Linked DNA regions of Homo sapiens: region 2 is linked to region 1. Evidence: fine-mapped expression QTL. A gene starts in region 1. The other region holds a variant in brackets. All regions are shown on one strand. Distances are between the middles of the regions.

Region 1 (2,902 bases):
ATCTTTCTTTGTCTAGGGGAAGCCCCCACAACACCCTGTACAGGAGATGGCCCTCTGAGAGGAGCCTGGTGGCCGCTGACATCCAGATGTAAATTTCTCATTGTCCTGGTTATTGCACCCCCGTGAAGTCCCCTCCATCCCAGGCTGAGCTGTGGAGGCCAAATCTCTGCTGAGTTCTTTCCACCACATTCACCCATGACTGGCCAGAGCGGGGCTCTCCACCAAAAAATGGGGCGTTGAGAGGTGTGTAGTACCAGGAGACCAGTTCCCCACTACACCCTGCAGAGGGACCCCACCCCCAGCAGCTCCCACCCTAGGGCAGAAGCACACCTTGAAGTCCAGAGTCCAAATCCCCAGGGAGCCCCCAGCCAAGTTAAAAAGACAAGATGTAGACAAACAGCCAATCCCAATGCCCACCATGAGGGCAGAGCAGAATCCACACTGGGAGACCAGGGCTCCCCAACCTCCCCATTGGGCCATTCAGCAACCCCGAATCTGCAGGGGACCAAGGAGGAGTTTGGAGGAGGGGGAAGACAGGTGGGGGAGGGGAGGCCCTGGCCCAGCGGCCTCTGTGGTCAAAGGGGGGATGCCCCCCCTATCCTGTCCTGGGCAGCTGCTGTCCTGGTCACAGGGTCTGAAACCGGAGCCCCTGAGTGGGGGTGGGGCGGCAGCTCTGGCCTGGACTGGGGGCGGGTCCTGCGCCGGGTGGGAGTTGGGGAACACAGGGGTCCCCGGAACCCAGGCCCTTCCGGTCCGGCAGCTCCTGCTGCGACTTGCAGCGTTTGGGGAAAGTTACTCACCAACTAGTCATGCGCCTCGGATGCCGCCGGCCACGGGGCTCCCGGAGGGGGGTCCGACACCGCCCGGTGCCCGGGATCCCCAATCTGGCCGGTGGATGAGGCCCCATCCCATGCACCCGAGTGCGGGGGACGGGGGGGTTAATATTAATTCAGGATCCCATCCCCACCCGAGGCAGGACACCCAGTGCACGCCCCAACTCCGGGACGCGGGCTCTGACCCTGGAACTTCCGAGATTCCCGCGACGCCCCCTGTCTCTGGGTCCAGAACTTCGGGGGACACCTCTTCTGCCTCCTCCAACCCCAGGTCGGTAACTCCGGGGACTCCCTTCGTGACTCCTCCTCTAACTGGGTCCGGGACCCCGGTCCTCCGCGTTGTCCTAGACTCCTAAACTTCGAGGACCCCCTGCCACCCCTCCAGTCCCTGGGTCCGGGACGTCCGGACCCCTCCCACCCCAGTACCCCACCCCAGGTCCGCAGCTTTGGGGACCTCTTCGCAGCCTCCTCCAACGCCGGGTCCAGAACTTTGGGAACCTCCCACGCAGTCCCCTCTCAGACCCTGAATCCAGAACTTCGGGACCCCCGCGCTCCCTCCAGCCCTGGAACTTGGGGACCCCTCGCGCCGCTCCCAGTCCCGGGTCCGAAACTTCTGGGGAACCCCCACGCCCTCCCCTTGGCCCTGGGACTTCGAGGCCCCCGCGCTCCCAGCGCAGGCTCGGCAGGCCGGGCTCACCCTGCCAGGTCGGCGCCCCGCGAGTGTCCAGGCGCGAGTCGGGTGCGGCCCCCGCGGCGCTGACTCCGCGCTGCCGGGCGCCCCGCTCGCTCCCTGGCTCCCGGGCCCGCGCCCTCCGCGCCGCCCTCCACGCCGCCCGTGCCTTTGTCTGCGCCGCCGCCGCCCGCGCCGCCTCCGGTCCCATCGCGGCCGGTCCCGACGCGGCCGCCGCCCGCCCCGCCTCCCCGGGCCGCCAAGGCCGCCCCGCTGCGCCCCCTGCCGGCTTTTTGCACTGGGAGAGGGTATGGGGGAGGGGATAAGGGGGAGGGGCGGGGGCCGGGACTGGGGAAGGGACGGAGGATTGAGGGAGGGGGTTAGGGGCGGTGGAGGGGGAGTGGGGGGGGGGGTTGCGTGGGGTCGGGTTGGGAGCAGAGGGTGGGGACAGAGAGACAGACGGAGAGGGACATCTGGGATGAGAAAGAGACCCAGAAACAGAGACACGGGGGAGACAGGCGGAGAGATAGGAAGCAGATGGAGAGAGTTGCACGGACAGCGATGTGACCTCACCCTCCTGTCACCTTCTCAGGAGACAGCTGCCTCTGTCCCCACTACCTGAGGTCATAACTTTGGGCCTGTGAGGGAGGTCAGGTCCCTCCCGGGCTGACATGGGTGGCCCAGTGAGGTTGGGGAGGGGGCAGTGGGTCTCAGGGTCTGCATACAGTAAGTGCTCAATGGGTGTTGCCAGGAAACGGAAGAGATCAACTTCGGGAGGGAACGGGAAGCAAGACAAAGAGAGAGAAGCCTCTGTTCCCCTGCCCGTCCCATCCCTAAGCAGGGACGTCTGTCCACCTCTGTCCCTCCCAAGACGATGGTAAAAATGCCCACAATGGTTGGATTAAGGTTATCTTTGCTGTTGTTTGAGGGTTCCAAAATCCAAAGGCTGAGGAAATGTCTCCAACGCATGGTTGCATCCCCTCAGCCTCCACTGGCCTGCGTTTGTCACCTCTGGTCACAGGGAGCACCCCCTTCCCACACTTGCCAGGAGAGCATCCTTCCGGAGTTGAACTAGGATCCACCTCCCCAGCCCCAAGCCCATGTGTCCCACTTGTCAATCCTGGTGCCGCCCCCTCTCTGGCACCGTCTCCAAAATCACACGGTGCGGCGCCGTTGGTTCGTTTGTGGACAGAGGTCCTGCAGCTCCCTGGAACCAAGGCCTGTGGCGCCCTAAAGCTCTGATCTTACATTTGAGTTTTTCTTTTCTTTTCTTTTCTTTTTTTTGAGACAAAGTCTCACTCTGTTGCCCAGGCTGGAGTGCAGTGGCACAATCTCGGCTTACTGCAGCCTCTGCCTCCCAGATTCAAGCAATTCTCCTGCCTCAGCCTCCCGAGTAGTT
Region 2 (2,902 bases), 26 kb after region 1:
ATGTGCCACCATGCCCAGCTAATTTTGGTATTTTTAGTAGAGATGGGGTTTCACTATGTTGGCCAGGCTGGTCTTCAACTCCTGACCTTGTGATTCACCCACCTCGGCCTCCCAAAGTTTTGGGATTACAGGCGTGAGCCACCGTGCCCAGCCGCAACTCATTTCTTTTTTCTTTTCTTTTTTTCTTTTTTTTTTGAGACAGAGTTTAGCTCTTTTTGCCCAGGCTGGATTGCAACGGCGCGAGCTTGGCTCACCGCAACCTCCGCCTCCCGGCTTCAAGCGATTCTCCTGCCTCAGCCTCCCGAGCAGCTGGGATTACAGGTGCCTGCCACCACACCCGGCTAATTTTTTGTATTTTTAGCAGAGACAGAGTTTCACCATGTTGGCCAGGATGGTCTCGATCTCTTGACCTCGTGATCTGCCCACCTTGGCCTCCCAAAGTGCTGGGATTACAGGAGTGAGCCACAGCGCCCGGCCAACTCATTTCTTTTCTAACAAAAAACAGCCTGAAAAATCGAGCTGCAGACATGGATAAGCAAGTGGGAAGCTTCCAGGGGTGAATACCAGCAGCTGTGTCAATGGAAAAGGGCCACCTGAGGGCCTGGCATGTTCAACATGGGGGCTCCAGCTTCCCTTTTTTTTGGTCACTACGTGTACAGTAAAGAAACAGGTTTTAGTTTGGCTGGGCACGGTGGCTCATGCCTGAAATCCCAGCACTTTGGGAGGCTGAGGCAGGTGGATCACCTGAGGTCAGGAGTTCGAGACCAGCCTGGCCAACATGGCGAAACCCCGTCTCTACTAAAAATACAAAAATTAGCCAGGCATGGTGGTGGGCGCCTATAATCTCAGCTACTCAGGAAGCTGAGGCAGGAGAATCGCGGGAACCCAGGAGGTAGAGGTTGCAGTAAGCCAAGATCGAGCCACTGCACTCCAACCTGGGCGACAAAAAAAAATGAACAGGCAACATGGCGCCAGCCAGCTAGAGAACTCATCTGCATAATAAAAGATTAAGAAGCCAGGCGCAGTGGTTCATGCCTGTAATCACAGCACTTTGGGAGGATGAGGCAGCAGATCATGAGGTCAGAGTTTGAGACCAGCCTGGCCAAGAGACCAGCCTGGCCAACATAGTGAAACCCCATCTCTACTAAAAAAATTAGCCGGGCATGGTTGCAGGCACCTGTAATCCCAGCTACTCAGGAGGTTGAGGCAGGAGAATTGCTTGAACCAGGGAGGCAGAGGTTGCAGTGAGCTGAGATCGCACCATTGCACTCCACCTGGGAGACTCAAAAAAAAAAAAAAAAAAAGAAAGAAAAGAAAGAAAAAAAAGATTAGGATGGGAAGGCCAGCTTTTCACACCCTATGCAAATTACACACATAGCCTTAACCAGGTTTTTACACCCTATGCAAATGAAACACCTGGTCCAACCAATCTTTTGTGCCCTATGGAAATCAGACACCACCTCCTTAAGCTCATCCATAAAACTCACTGCTTTTTACTGAGGAAGTGGAAACCCGTTCAAGATCCCTCTCTCTGCAGCAGAGAGAGCGCTTCTCTTTCTTTCACCGATTAAACTTCC[A/T]CTCTGAACCTCACTCTTTGTATGTCTGAGTCCTAGTTTTCCGGGCCTGTGAGACAACAAATCTTGGGTATTTACCCCAGACAACAACACTACTCCAGTGGGAGGGAACACTTGAAGCCAGGAGTTTGAGGCCGGCCTGGGCAACTTATTGAGACACCATTTCTATAAAACAAACAAACAATAAGCAGGGGCTAGGCATGGTGGCTCACGCCTGTAATCCCAGCACTTTGGGAGGCTGTGGCGGGCAGATCACCTGAGGTCAGGAGTTCGAGATCAGCCTGGCCAATATGGTGAAACCCTGTCTCTACTAAAAACACAAAAATTAGCCAGGCATGGTGTCAGGTGCCTGTAGTCCCAGCTACTTGGGAGGCTGAGGCAGGAGAATCACTTGAACCCAGGAGGTGGAGGTTGCAGTAAACTGAGATCGCACCACTGCACTCCAGCCTGGGTGACAGGGCGAGACTCCAACTCAAAAAAAAAAAAAAAAAAAAAAAGCTGGGCACGGTGGCTCATGTCTGTAATCCCAGCACTTTGAGAGGCTGAGGTGGGTGGATCACCTGAGGTCAGGAGTTTGAGACCAGCCTGGCCAACATGGTGAAACTCCGTTTCTACTAAAAATACAAAAATTAGCCGGGAGTGGTGGCACACGCCTGTAATCCCAGCTACTAGGGAGGGTGAGACAGGAGAATCACTTGAAAGGAGAATCACTTGAACCTGGGAGGCAAAGGTTGCAGTGAGCCAAGATTGTTCCACTGCACTCCAGTCAGCCTGGGTGACAGAGAGAGACTCTGTCTCAAAAAACAAACAAACAAAACAGTCAGCAGGAACAGGCTCCAGGGAGAGACGTTCTGCTGCCTGGGTTGGGAGGGCTATGAGAAGTTGGCAGAAGGAGGAGCCTAGGGAGGTTCCTAGATTTTTCTGAGTGCTTGAGGACTCTCTCTCTGATTTGGGGAGGCTTAGGGAGCACTGGGCAGCTCTGAGAGTGGCCTGGGAGCCTGGCTGTGCCCCCTGCAATCCTGATGCTTTGGGGTAAGCAGGTGTTTGCCCCACCAGGCCGGAGGGCAGAGCAGTTCCTCTGGAACATCTCCCAATGCACAAAGGTTCTGGATATGGGTATGACTGTGAACTTCCCCTCGGCAAATACCTCCCCGACGGAAATGCACACGCAGCCTTCTCTCTTGGAATAAGGCAGGAAAATAAAAAAATAAAAATAAAAAATAAATGTATAAGAAGGTGAAGTCACAACGGGCAGTAGACAGTTGGGGATATTGCACCATCCCTGCAGGAAGGAAGCACCTTGGAGCTGACCCAGGCCGCCTCACTCT

The links.
Region 2: its variant is fine-mapped to the expression of HOMER3 in whole blood (TOPMed, PIP above 0.99).

Annotation. Positions count from the first base shown.
Region 1 is chr19:18,939,521-18,942,422 of GRCh38, forward strand. It overlaps HOMER3 (homer scaffold protein 3), which reads right to left and starts at 1,697. Exons shown (of 10, transcript NM_004838.4): 1 at 1,531-1,697. HOMER3-AS1 (HOMER3 antisense RNA 1) reads left to right here and starts at 734. Exons shown (of 3, transcript NR_134913.1): 1 at 734-1,104. RefSeq lists a silencer at 1,661-1,860.
Region 2 is chr19:18,965,030-18,967,931 of GRCh38, forward strand. No RefSeq gene overlaps it. Among named protein-coding and RNA genes, the nearest start is that of HOMER3, 25 kb to the left of the region's middle. The variant A/T (reference allele first, on the strand shown) is at 1,578.